Linked DNA regions of Homo sapiens. The protein of the gene in region 1 interacts with the protein of each later gene in a pairwise test. Each region holds a gene or a part of one and is shown in the gene's direction. Other genes may lie near its edges.

Region 1 (3,500 bases):
CCACGTAGTGGATCCTTCCCTCCTAGCCAAGTTAAGGGCAACCTTGTGTGTTGACTTCTGTGTTGCCCTCACATGTATCAGATCCTGCAAGACTATGTGTCATAAATTCTTTGCGTAAAGGAACGTGATCTAGTAGAGTCTTGAAATTTAGTGAGGGGGAGAATCCAGCATACAATCTTTTTAGATCTTGTCCAAGGAGTATAGTTACTAAACTCCAAAGGATTTCAGGCTGCCAATAAGGTAGTCACGTGGCATGGATCCATTTTAGTAAGATTCCTTTGTGTTTGTTTTTCTGAAAAGGATTCAGCGTCTTGGAAAGAGATCAGGAAAAATGCACAGGTTTCCTTATAGCATCCTGTCTCGCTAGAGAGCTCGTTGCTCCAAAGAGCTTCCTTTTCCTGGTATCTATACCTGGAGAAGTCATTGACTAATGATAACTGGAAATACCAGTAGAAGTCAGTGAATGCTTCCAATCTCAATCTCCTGTATACTTTTCACCAATTTTTTTTTTTATCAAAGAACTTGGATTCCACTATGATAGAAGAAGCCTGTCTTCCGAAAAGGACTTCTAGAGCCACAAAGTGCTTGGTTAACACCTTGGTGATGGTGAAAATCCTGTGCCCCTCCTGGACTACCATGTGCCCCTCCCCGGGTTAGGGTTCAGACTCTTGCTTTAGGATTTAGGAAACCAGAGAATATTCAGTGGCTTGGCTAGTATCCAGTAGCAGGTGGGCGTAGTTAGGAGGCGAGACCAGGTGTGGGTGTAATAGCCCAGCCTGTCCTGTCCCACACTAACACTGCACCACACTCAACGAGCTTCTACGGCTCGGCCTGCTCATCTGCTCCCAGCACCCACTGTCCCCAGATTATTTAGGTTGACTCAGCTTCTTTGTCATTGTCACTTGGAGTCTTCAGGCCTCGTTTCTGATCCTCTGCCCCACCTGCCCCAAATGTGCAAGGAAACCTCTTTCTTCCTGTCTGCCAAAGCCTGTCACTCATCATTCCCTGCTGTGGAGTAGAGCCCCAGGACTCCCTCCTCCTAGGCAGCAGCTGCAGGGGTGACCTGCTCAGCTGCTTCTGCTGCTTTGGGTGAAGAGAGTGTGACTCAGTAAACCCCAGAGACCATTCCTGAACGTCCCGTCATCTCCCCTAAGAAACTTTCCACACTCTGCCCTTCTTCAACCTTCCCTGCCGACTCTCAGCTCACCTCTCAGCTCTCCTCTCAGCACAGACTTCTGCAGTTACTGCAGTTTTCTGTGTTCCATCCTTTTAGTTGTTGTTTGTTTGTTTGTTTGTTTGTTTTGAGATGGAGTCTCACCCTGTTGCCCAGGCTGGAGTGCAGTGGCACAACCTTGGCTCACTGCAACCTCCGCCTCCCAGGTTCAAGTGATTCTCCTGCCTCAGCCTCCGAGTAGCTGGAACTACAGGCGCGCGCTGCCACGCCCAGCTAACTTTTGTGTTTTTAGTAGAGACAGGCTTTCACCATGTTGGCCAGGCTGGTCTCAAATTCCAGATCTCGGGTGATCCACCCACGTCAGCCTCCCAAAGTGCTGGGATTACAGGTGTGAGCCACTGTGCCATCCTTTAAAGGATGTGTTCCATCCTTTAAAACATGCCACAGTGAGCTAGGCCGTGAGCTTACTTCCTCTGAGGAGGGACCTGCTTCTGGCCTTCTGCCCTCTTCCTTTCAGCACTGTTTCTTCCTCCTCAGTCCCCCGACGTCCTGATTTTTTGTGTATTTGTTTCGTTTTGTTTTGCCTTTGGGAGACATGTTTCTGCACACGGCAGGCGCAGCCCACCGCCAGAACCCCTCACACCTGCCACCTTCCTCCCTCATTGCCACCTGCAGCTTAGGATGCTGGTTGTCAAAATGAAAATACAAAGTTATGCAAAACTCAGGTTGTATTTTCAGCCATGTACTTTTCATAGGCATAAGTTCTGGAACTCTGAAACTGAGGTCATGACAAAGCAGATTTGCCCTCAGAAGGTTCCAGAATCCTTGTGACGCCTTCCTGTTGCTAATGGTAGCACTGTATCTATCCTAGCATTATATCTACAGAGCAGAGGCAGGACCTTTGGCAGGAGACACATCCCTTCTCCTGTGATGTGTCAGTTAGTGTAGAGAAGCAAGCTGGCATGGACTTGAGAGCCGGGGTGGGTATCTGCCCCATGTGGCCTGGCTATGGCTGCTCTGTTCAGGGAGCCTGGGGTCAGGGGTGGCGGCCACCAACCTGTGCCAGAGAAGGCTAGTCTCTGCATGGACTTCAGTGCAGGCATACCCGGCCTGATGGGGAGGGCTGTGGGTGGAAACCACACAGAAAAGATGCCTCCTCTTGCTTGAATTGTGGTGTTAACTAGCCGGGAACGTATGTGTCTGGTTGCTGAAATTAATACCGCATTTGCCTGTGGGCTTATCTTTCAGGATTCCTTTGGGACCTCTTCCAGACACACCCTGTTCCGTAGCCTCTCGAGAAAGTAGTAAATTTTGCTGACTCTGCGTTATTGAAATCTCGCTTGGTCGTTCATTCTCATAAAATCTGGAATATGATTTATTGTTTATATATTGTAATTTTCACAGGGGTTTGAAGTAGAAATAGTTTTATCTCAAATTAGAATATTTCTCCTCTCAAGCATATGCCAACAACACATAGCAATATTGTAAATTTGGAAATCTGTGTTATTTCCGTGTTCACTCATGTTCAATTAGACAGAATTAATATATTCTGTAATGTTTTTAGTATCATTTTTAAAAACTAAAGATATTTACTTCAAAATAGTGAACAGTAAATTCAAAATAAACTTCCTTATTTAGTAACATAACACATATATTAATAAGCTAAATATCTAACTGGAAAGCACAAAACGGCTAGGTTATTGTGCAGTTACCAGTTCTACAGAGAAACCTGGCTTATCCTAAGTGCAATCATTATGTTGATCCATATATATATATACATATCCTTATATATACATATATTGATCATTATAATTGATCCTAAGTGCAATCATTATATTGAATGTGCTGTGTGTATTTGTAGGAGCTGTATTTTTCTTAACAGATGCTGTCTGTTAGCCTTTTCTTTATCTTACAGTTTAAATTTCAAGCATTTATTAGAGTAACTGCATGAATGTTTACACACACATACCCTGGCCTAAGATTTTTTTTTTTTTTGAGACAGGGTCTGCCACTATCACCCAGGCTGAAGTGCAGTGGCACAATCTCGGCTCGCTGCAACCTCTGCCTCCGGGGCTCAAGCAGTCCTTCCACCTCAGCCTCCAAGTAGCTGGGACCACAGGCACACACCACCATGCTGGGCTAACTTTTGTACTTTTTGTAGAGACGGGGTTTCTCCATATTGCCCAGGCTGGTCGCAAACTCCTGAGCTCAAATGACCCTCCCATCTCAGCCTCCCGAAGGGCTGGGATTACACGTGTGAGCCACCATGCCCAACAGTGGCCTAAGATTTTATCTTTTGGGTTTGAGAAAAAAAAATTCATTTCTC
Region 2 (3,500 bases), on another chromosome or scaffold:
GCATCATGTCAGCACTCAAAAGGTTTCAGATTTTGAAGCATTTTGGATTTCAGATTTGGGATTAGGAATACTCAACCTGTATTAAACAAAGCTGGTCCCTGAGGCAACTACTCAGATATTTTTTTATTTGAAAAGTTGCTCTTTATCATTAGATGTTGCTACTGCTTTTCCCAAAAATATCAGAGTCCTCATAACTTTTTTCTGTTAAAATCAAATAATATTTATTGGTATTTATGATTTATGATATATAGGCATATATCATAACTTACACACATATAAGTACCTTAAAATTACCTTAAGTTATTTTAGAAGATATGTATTTGTATCTCACATGTATTTTTGTATTTATTCATTCAGGAATATATTGAGTGCTTGCTATGTACAAAACTGAACATTTGTTTAAACACATAATTGCAGGATCAGATGTCAAGCAACCCAATTTCTAAAAGCCTCACAGAACTAAGTGAAGATTTAACAATTAACCCAGTTCCTCTAAATATATCAATATCTCCTATTTGTTGGAGTAATTTGTAAGCTCAAGTACAACTGAGAATGATAGGGACCTAAAGAATCGTGGCTTAATCAAGAGTGGCTTATTTTCTGTCCTCCCTGTGGTCATCCACAGTACTCAGGAATCCTGGTTCACAATGGCTACTGGATGCAGTAGCAAAAAGTTTTTAAAATAGAGCAAGGGGCCAGGCATGATGGCTCATGCCTGAAATCCCAGTGCTTTGGGAGGCCAAGGCAGGAGGATCACCTGAGGCCAGGAATTCAAGACCAGTCTGGGAAACATAGCCAGACCCTGTATATACAAAAAAAAAAAAAAAAAAATTGGCTGAGCATAGTATCACATGCCTTTAGCTCTAGCTACTCAGGCAGCTGCAGCAGGAGGATCACATGAGCCCAGGAGTTTGAGGCTGCAATAAGCTATAATCGTGCCACTGCACGCCAGCCTGGGTAACAGAAGGAGGCCCTGTCTCTAAAGAAATAAAGAAATAAACCAGAGTACAGTAAGTACCAGCCTTAAAGAAAAAAAGATAAATGACTTTAAAAAGAACTTCTGTTCATCAAAAGATACCAATAAGAGAACAAAAAGGTAAGCCACAAACTGGCTGATGATATTTTTTGCAATGCATATATCTAAGAAAGGTGTTAAATCCAGAGTATGCATAAAAAGCAGGCATGTCTCTAAAAGCAATGCCTAAATAGCCCATAAACATCTCATAAGATGCTCAATATCATCACTCATCAGGGAAATGCAAATTAACAACATGATGAAATGCCATTACCCACCAGAATGGCTAAAATTAAAAAGAATTACAATGCCAAATGCTGGTGAGGACGTGGAGCAACTGGAATACTTATAAATTCCTGGTAGAATTATGTATCGACGCAACCAATTTGGAAACTGACAGTATCTACTAAAGCCGCAAACATGCTCATGCTGTGGCCCAGCATTTCCACTCCTGGGAATATACCCAAGAGAAATGAGTGCATGTTGTTCACCAAATGAGGGGAAGTGGCCAAATGAGGCTTCACAGCAGCACCTTGAATTTTGTCTCCGAAGATGGCAGGTATTCTCTAAGTGCACAGACACTGGGAGCACCATGTAAAGTCATGGAGATACAAACGAGCATGAGGTGTTTGGGAGCATGGTAGTTGTAAACTGCTGGCGCACATGAGTTAGGATTCTAGAAAGACACAAGGCTCAAGGGGTAGGCCGGGTCTTGTAGAGCTTGCCAAGGAGTGAGTTTTGCCAAGGAGCTTGTTCAGGTTTGACTTTCAGAGAGATCACTCAAGAGGTATGCGGGGTGAAGCTAGGGAGGCTAAGTAACTCTTGGCAGGAAGCCACAGGGGGTGCTAATTATCACTTTGCTGCCATTTTACCAATTTGGGGGAATAAGTACTTTTACCCTGAATTATACTACCTGCCATTCTATGCAGAGAATGGAATTGGTATGTTGCTATAACTGATGATTTTCCAGAAAGCCTTACACTTCCATAATAGCGACAGGAAGAGAAGGTAGACAGATGACAATCCAGCAAGCATTTGCTCAACCGCCATCCTGTCTAGCTCAGCATCTCTTTGACAACTTTCAAACTTTCTACCAAAAACATCACTGATTTTACAAAACGTGTACGGGCTTTGTCCATTCTTAGGGTGAACTTTGCCCTTTCCATCCAAATCCTCTTCCTGTACTGACCATTCCAGAAAGACAACACAGGCTTTGCCCATGGCCAGCATCCTTAGTGAGTGTGTGAAAACCACCCAAAGGAAAGGGAAAGGAAAAGCAAAACATGGTATTTTTCTTTAGAGCAAGACTCTGATTTCTCAATGTGAACCCGTTGCCCAATTTTCTTGAGACAGCCCCAAATTTGTATTAGTCCCTGTGTTAAAATGGCCATCACGGGCTCATTACACAGCAGACATTGTCACACTGCTCATGTTTCTGCCAAGGAAAACACAAGAGGAAATGATCTTACTGGGAAAGAGGAGGTGTGAGGCTGAGGGTAAAGTCCCTGACCATGAACAAATCATGAGACTCTGCCAGGGCTCCTGGGGGAGGGGCAGAATCACCTTTACTAGCGATTTAAGAAGAAAAGATTCTTACCAAAAAGATAGCTGCACTCGTATGTTTATCACAGCACTGTCCACAGTAGCAAAGATATGGAATCAACCTAAGTGTCCATCAAGTGGATGACTGGAAAAAAAAATGCGGTATATATAGCATGGAATACTCCTTAACTATAAAAAGGAATGAAATCACATCTTTTACAGCCACATGGTTAGAATTGGAGGTCATTATCTTAAATGAAATAACTCAGAAACAGAAAGTCAAATACCACATGTTCTCATTTAGAAGTGAGACCTAAACAATGGGTACACATGGACATGCAGAGTGGAATAAGAGACACTGGAGCCTCCACAGGGTGGGAGGGTGGGAGGGTGACCAGGGGTGAGGGCTGAAAATTACCTATTGGGTGCGCTGTTCACTATTTGGGTGATGGGTACACTAAAAGCCCAGACCTCATCACTATGCAGTATCTGCACATAAGAAATCTGCACTTGTACTCCCTAAATCTATAAAAAGTAAAAAATTAAAGAGAAAGAATTGGCCGGGCATGGTGGCTCACGCCTGTAATCCCAGCACTTTGGGAGGCCGAGGCGGGTGGACCACGAGGTCAGAAGATTGAGACCATCCTGGCTAACATGGTGAAACCTTGTCTCTACTAAAAATACAAAAAATTAGCCGGGTGTGGTGGCACGTGCCTGTGGTCCCAGCTACTCAGGAGGCTGAGGCAGAAGAATCACTTGAACCCAGCAGGCAGAGGATGCAGTGGGCTGAGATCGCGCCACTGCACTCCATCCTGGCGACAGAGCGAGACTCTGTCTCAAAAAAAGAGAGAAAGGATTCTATCCATGTGCCAGGGTATGAGCCTCTTGACACCCAGATCCTTGAAAAAGATGCTTTGCCTCAGTGGTCCGCCGCAGACCCCTT
Region 3 (3,500 bases), on another chromosome or scaffold:
AGTAGATATATATTGCAGTAAATGTACCTGATTATTTCATTTTGAATTATTTAAAAAAATTTGTGAAAATTTATTTTCTTTCATTATGTAAGGACCTATACATTGGTCCCCATTTTGCCTCTTGGCTGGCAGAGCCTAAAATATTTACTCTCTGGCCATTTACAGAAAAAGTTTGCCAACCTCTGGCCTAGGACATTGTACTTACCCCCCAACACCAGCAGGGGAATTTGTCAACTGAATTTTATCTTATTTTATCTCAGCTTAATAAGTTTATCTCAGAACTGTCACGCCAGTTCTGTCTTTTAGAATTTTGCTCATTATTTATTACATCGTTGATCATCTGTTTAGGTTTGGTTATGAGAAAGGTATGGGAGGTATGAGAGAAAGAGATAATAAATGTGATCATGAGTATCCATTTCTCTCCCTCTCTGACTTCTTTCACCTTTTTATCACTGATGGAATATTTGGGGATTTCCTTAGGTGAGCTTCTAGACTGTGGCTTTCAATCCTGGCCATCTCCCTGGTCTGTCCAAGTTAATTCTGTGATAGGGCACACAGTCTCTCAGGTAGTATTCCAGGTATATTTTATACACATACAGTAAAAACTTATGTATAGTTACTTCTTGTGCTTTACTTTCTTCACACAGATAATAGCATCCTCTGCTGCTTGTTCTGTAGGTTTCTTTATCCTGGAAATCCTTTCGTATTAGTATACAAAAAACTCTTTTTTTTTTTCTATGAGTACATGGTACTGTTTAGTTTCCAGTTGAAGAATATTTAGAGTTTTCTTAATGTTTTGTTGTTGCAAATAATGCTATAGTGAATACTTTATTATGCCTGTTTAGGTGTATATCAATAGGATTAATTCCTACAAGTAAAACTGTTAATTCCTACAAGTAAAATAGTTTGATAGCTATTTCCAGTTTGCCCACCAAAGAGATACTATCATGAACAACATGCTGTGTATGTGTTTTTATATCAGGTAATCCTGATGAACATTTGTGAAACATTCACGTTCTTTCCCATAAATGATTGAGGATTATCAGCATTAGAATGACCTTCCTGTTGGAAATCCAGATTTCTAGTGAATTAGAATTTCAGGGAGTAGGGCCCAAGAATATGCATGTTTAACATTCCCCAAGTGAAATGTTACATTCTGATGTATGAACCACTGCTCTGGGAAATACTGTTATATAAAGTAGACACCAAATGATAAAGTGAAGACTTAGCCTTTTGTTTCTCTTCTCATTTTAGAACAGTGCCCAAACCTCGTGTTAAAAAGCAGCCGAAGACTCAGCGTGGAAAGAGAAAAAAGCAAGATTCTTCTGATGAGGATGATGATGATGACGAAGCTCCCAAAAGGCAGACTCGTCGAAGAGCGGCTAAAAACGTTAGGTAAGTTGTACCCCAGAAGTGTTTCACTGGTGTGATGTGATAAAGTAGTTGGTTAGATTTTGGTTCTCATAAGTCCGGGGTTGTGCACTTAATAGATAAAAATAACAGCCTATGTCCTGAAGTTGTTTTCAGAAATCTGGTTAGCTTTCTTGCAAAAAGAGTGGTATTGAGCCAAGGGGAATAGGAAAAGAGTAGCAATAGCTCATTTGAAGCCTTCATTCCTAAAAAACACCACAAGTTCGTGTCCTGTCCAATGGTGACTTAGTGGCATTATCTTCATTTCATAACATTTTTTTCCATTAAAGATATTTGGATTATATTCCTACTTCTGAATTGCTCTTTGAATCACAGACGTTTTTCTGAGGTTCAGCTTAACGTATTGCTACTTGAATCTGATTTTATCAAGTACTAATAGGATATGAAGCATTAATAGGAATTATCATTAGTGAAATAGGCCAGGCTCAGTGGCTCATGCCTGTAATTCCAACACTTTGGGAGGCCGAGGCAGGCAGATTGCTTGAGCCCAGGGGTTTGAGACCAGCCTAGACAACAGGGCGAGACCCTGTCTCTACAAAAAATAAGAAAAAGCCGAGTGTGGTGGCGGCATGCACCTGCAGTCCCAGCTACTTGGGAGGCTGAGGTGGGAGAATCCTGGGAGATGGAGGTTGCAGTGAGTTGAGATCACGCCACTGCACTCCACTCCAGGCAAAAAAGCTAGATCCTGTCTCAAAAAGAAAAAGGAAAATGAAATAAAGGAACAGATATATGCAAACACTAGTAGTTTACTTTATAGAAATCAAGTATTTTTTTTTTTAGATTTTACAGATTTGTTCTTCATAGAGATGGTGAAAATGAATCCTAGAGATATTCATAACTTATTCAATGTATCCAGTTAATAATTCCAAAGCTAGGACTGGGCTTTGAGTATGCTAGTGTATAGCCTAGCACTTTTTCTTACTGTAACTGTACTACATCCAGGATTGTTTTTCTTTCTTGTGACTCAATCATTCATTGTTAATATGTGATAGGAAGTTACATATATAAAAATATATATAAAAAATATAAAAAATATATAAATATATAAATAAATATAAATATATATAAATATTATAAATATATAAAAATATATATAAATATATAAATATATAAAAATATACATATAAATATATATAAAAATATATATAAATATATATATAAATATACATATAAATATATATAAAATATATATAAATATAAATATATATAAATATAAATATAAATATAAATATATATATAAATATATATATATAATTTTTTTTTTTGAGACGGAGTCTTGCTGTGTTGCCCAGGCTAGAGTGCAGTGGCGCGATCTTGGATCACTGCAACCTCTGCCTCCCGGATTCAAGTGATTCTGCTGCCTCAGCCTCCAGAGTAGCTGGGATTACAGGCGCCCACCATGCCGGCTAATTTTTGTATTTTTAATCGATACGGTCACCATGTTGGCCAGGCTGGTTTCTAACTCCTGACCTCGTGATTCACCTGTGTCAGCCTCCCAAAGTGCTGGGATTACAGGTGTGAGCCTCCGCGCCTAGCCAATATGTTTCTTTTTTTAAACCAGGAAGTATTTGTGTTGAAGCTTCCAGCAGTCTGGGAATACTTAAATTTCATATTCTTATTACTGGGAGACAACATACAGGGTTGACATTTTTAATTTTAGAAATATTGCTTCTCTTTTTGCCTGATGAAATAGTAGCAAATTTTTTCTTCCATTATGGTTTTTCTTTTTTTGTGTGGTAGTCTACTTGTTTACATAATAATCTGATACTAAAAAATGAAAAAAATAGAAGTGTCCTTATAGTTTTCTATATCTTGCTTATACAAATCAGTATAAATATAGAATTTTTATTTTCAAATTGAGTTAGACTCCCTACAGTTGTTTAGGAGCATTCATCAGCACTTTAGGAAAAAAAAGTAAGCTTTGAGCCTACTGTAAATGGCAGATCTATAAAACAACATGCTTTTGGAACCAAAAGGGTATGGTTTCTTATTCTAGTGACGGTTATGTGTGGCAGTTTAATTCTGAAGAGATCATTTCTCATTTATTCAGCATTATTCCTCTTGCAGTT
Region 4 (3,500 bases), on another chromosome or scaffold:
AAACTCCTGACCTCAGGTGATCTCCCTACCTCGGCCTCCCAAAGTGCTGGGATTACAAGCATGAGCCACCGCACCCGGCCTACAGTATCCGTTTTCTTTTTTTTTTTTTTTGAGACAGAGTTTCATTCTTGTCACCCAGGCTGGAGTGCAGTGGCGTGATCTTGGCTCACTGCAACCTCCACCTTCCGGGTTCAAGTGATTCTCCTGCCTCAGCCTCCCCAGTATCCATTTTCTAATGCTGCTCTTGTAGCCAAGGATCGAGCCTTAAGGTCTGAGTCCTGAGTCCTTGCACTCTAGTGAAAGCTTGTCCTTTTTTATTTGGTCCAGTTTTGAGGACATAGTCCTTGCTACCCACAATCTCCCAAAGGAGGAAGACTGTAGGTAACTTACCCTGTCCTTTGGCTAGACTAACAGAGACGGAATTTGAACCCCCGCCTGCAGGTGCATCAGCTCAGTGGTTTCTCACACCTGGAAGCAGCCACTGGCCACTCTCTTTCCCTCCAGAGGCATCAGGGAACATGGAACAGTTCAATGAATTGCTCCAGGTCATCTCTTGAGAAAGGGGCTCAGGGAGGGAGTTCAGGAAGGAATGGGACTGAACTTGCTGATGTCACTGTTTAAAGTAGGCTCTATGTGCTGATTTTAATAAGGTAATGCAAGGCCTGGCGCTGTGGCACACACCTGTAATCCCACCACTTTGGGAGGCCAGGTCGGGCGGATCACCTGAGGTTGGGAGTTCAAGATCAGCCTGGCCAACATGGTGAAACCCTGTCTCTACTAAAAATACAAAAATTAGCCAGGTGTGGTGGTGCATGCCTGTAATCCCAGCTACTCAGAAGGCTGAGACAGGAGAATCACTTGAATCTGGGAGGTGGAGGTTGCAGTGAGCTGAGATTGCACCACTGCACTCCAGCCTGGGTGACAGTGAGACTCTGTCCCAAAAAAAATACATAAATGAGGTAATGTATTTAACAGGGGTAACCATTAGAGAGACACCTCCATACGTAAAGAATGGTGACCCCGTCTCTACAGAAAATAAACAATTTTCCGGTTTTGATAGCTTGCGCCTGTGGTCCCAGCTACTTGGGAGTCTGAGGCAGGCGTGTTGCCTGAGTCTGGGAGCTGGAGGTTGCAGTGAGCTGAGATTGTGCCACTACATTTCAGCCTGTGCAACAGAACAAAGCAAGACCCCTGTCCCCATTAAAAAAAAAAAAAGAATGATGAGAATGGTGACCATTCTTCTAATGGTAACTTTCCAGTCTGAATAATGATGATAATAACAGTACCATTTTCTAAGGCTGATAATTTACAAAACTCTTCACACACAATGGGCTGGTTTATTGGGCATGTGTTATGCTAATAAGCACATGACGGATCTTTCCTCGTTTCATCCGTCCGTGTGTGAGGTAGGTATTACTACCTTTCATTTTACAGATGAGGAAATAGGTTTGGAAAAGATAAATGACTTGCCCTTAGTCACCTGACTAGGAATTAATAGAACTGGAGCTTGAACCCAGGTCTGCAGACACATAACATCCAGTGGTTTCTACCACCCCTAAGTACTCTTCTCTTATCTAAAAGGTGAATAGTGAGCTGGAATGAAAGGTCTTATCTTCAGCGACATAAGGATTCTTCACTTTTCCAGTGGAATGAAAATGTCTGTTCTGTGCAGACAGAGGGGTGTGGACTGGGGGAAGTGGTTTCCCATTTTGTATATTTACTGCTACATTTTAGCTGTTGGTGGGGGTCACAGTTATAAAACGATAAGGGATTAAACCAACCGTTTTTCTTGAACAGTTTATGTAGTAGGCCCAGGCAATAACGTGACAACTCTATTTACACATTTAAAATGAATATGTGTTTCTTGCTTTTGCTTAATGATAAGGAACCAGTCAATAAGGAACAGGATCAACGGCCACTCCACCCAGTGGCAAATCCACATGCAGAAATCTCCACCAAGGTTCCAGCCTCCAAAGTGAAAGACGCCGTGGAACAGCAAGGGGAGGTGAAGAAGAATAAAAGAGAAAGAAAGGAAGAACGGCAGAAGAAAAGGAAAAGAGAAAAGAAAGAACTAAAGTTAGAAAACCACCAGGAAAACTCAAGGAATCAGAAGCCTAAGAAGCGCAAAAAGGGACAGGAGGCTGACCTTGAGGCTGGTGGGGAGGAAGTCCCTGAGGCCAATGGCTCTGCAGGGAAGAGGAGCAAGAAGAAGAAGCAGCGCAAGGACAGCGCCAGTGAGGAAGAGGCACGCGTGGGCGCAGGGAAGAGGAAGCGGAGGCACTCGGAAGGTAAGTGGCTAGCTCACGCTCTGGGATTCATCTGAAAACCGGGAAAGCTGTGAATTTGGGATATTTAAGCCTGTTAGACCTAGCGTTTTGTGTGCGTGTGTGTGTGGTTTTTTTTTTTTTTGTTTTTTTTGAGACGGAGTCTTGCTCTGTTGCCCAGGCTGGAGTGCAGTGGCACGATCTCAGCTCACTGCAACCTCCACCTCCCAGGTTCAAGCGATTCTTCTGTCTCAGCCTCCTGAGTAGCTGAGATTACAGACGTGTGTCACCAGACCCAGCTAATTTTTGTATTTTTAGTAGAGATGGGGTTTCGCCATGTTAGCCTGGCTGGTCTCGGACTCCTGACCTCTGGTGATCCGCCCCCCTCGGCCTCCCAAAGTGCTGGGGTTACAGGCATGAGCTACCGCACCTAGCTAGACCTTATGTTTTGAACCAAGTAAGGGAACGAGCATAAGCTTTGTGGCCAGGCAGAGGTGGGCCCTGCCCAGGCAAATGACCTCACTTCTCAACTCCTTTCATCCCATCTCCAGCATGGAGGAGGATAAAACCCTCCTGGGGTTTTATAAACCGGGGCTGGGCAGCTTGGAGAAGAAATGAGATGATACGTGGAGTTTGCCTAGCTCGCATAAGGTCTCATTAAATGGTAGCTGCTAGCGTAAATGCAAAATCTTCTTTAAAAAAAATCTTTCCAAATACTTAGTTGAAACAGATTCTAAGAAGAAAAAGATGAAGCTCCCAGAGCATCCTGAGGGCGGAGAACCAGAAGACGATGAGGCTCCTGCAAAAGGTATATCACTGCTGTCATTTGAGGAGCACGGCTGGGCACAGCGGCTCTCGCTGATAGTCCCAGCTACTTCAGAGGCAGGGGCAGGAGGGTCACTTGAGCTCAGGAGTGTGAGGCTGTAGTGAGCCATGGGCGTACCACTTTCAAAAAGCGAGAGAGAGAGAAAAGAAAAGAGAGAAATACACGGTCCCTTGTAGGTTGGGAGAGGGGCCGAGAGATGCCCCCTTCTGGGGAAGGAAGGTGTAATGTGGGCACTTCTAGTAGGGTCTTACCCTCCAGAGGTATATATAAGAATTTGAAAGTAAAATCAGTTCTCTAGGGTGTGTGAGTCAGTCTTACAGTGCCTCTCACCCACTGTCTTTAAGGAGAAAAGTAAAGCAGTCTGGTTTGGAAATGTATGTTATCTTTGAAATTTAAATAAGCCCAATATA

What was found.
Region 2: the proteins of BEND7 (region 1) and FAM124A interact in a two-hybrid assay, tested with the Homo sapiens proteins (one large-scale study listed by BioGRID and IntAct).
Region 3: the proteins of BEND7 (region 1) and CHD2 interact in binary tests that used the Homo sapiens proteins (3 or more experiments, as listed by UniProt).
Region 4: the proteins of BEND7 (region 1) and LYAR interact in binary tests that used the Homo sapiens proteins (3 or more experiments, as listed by UniProt).

The regions. Positions count from the first base shown.
Region 1 is NC_000010.11:13,501,515-13,505,014, reverse strand, and holds part of BEND7 (BEN domain-containing protein 7), read left to right. Parts: intron 1-1,421; exon of another isoform or gene 1,422-2,154; intron 2,155-3,500.
Region 2 is NC_000013.11:51,274,398-51,277,897, forward strand, and holds part of FAM124A (protein FAM124A), read left to right. Parts: intron 1-3,500.
Region 3 is NC_000015.10:92,938,324-92,941,823, forward strand, and holds part of CHD2 (chromodomain-helicase-DNA-binding protein 2), read left to right. Parts: intron 1-1,254; coding exon 1,255-1,395; intron 1,396-3,498; coding exon 3,499-3,500. UniProt on the Homo sapiens protein: ATP-dependent chromatin-remodeling factor that specifically binds to the promoter of target genes, leading to chromatin remodeling, possibly by promoting deposition of histone H3.3.
Region 4 is NC_000004.12:4,273,155-4,276,654, reverse strand, and holds part of LYAR (cell growth-regulating nucleolar protein), read left to right. Parts: intron 1-1,885; coding exon 1,886-2,288; intron 2,289-2,985; coding exon 2,986-3,072; intron 3,073-3,500. UniProt on the Homo sapiens protein: Plays a role in the maintenance of the appropriate processing of 47S/45S pre-rRNA to 32S/30S pre-rRNAs and their subsequent processing to produce 18S and 28S rRNAs. Also acts at the level of transcription regulation.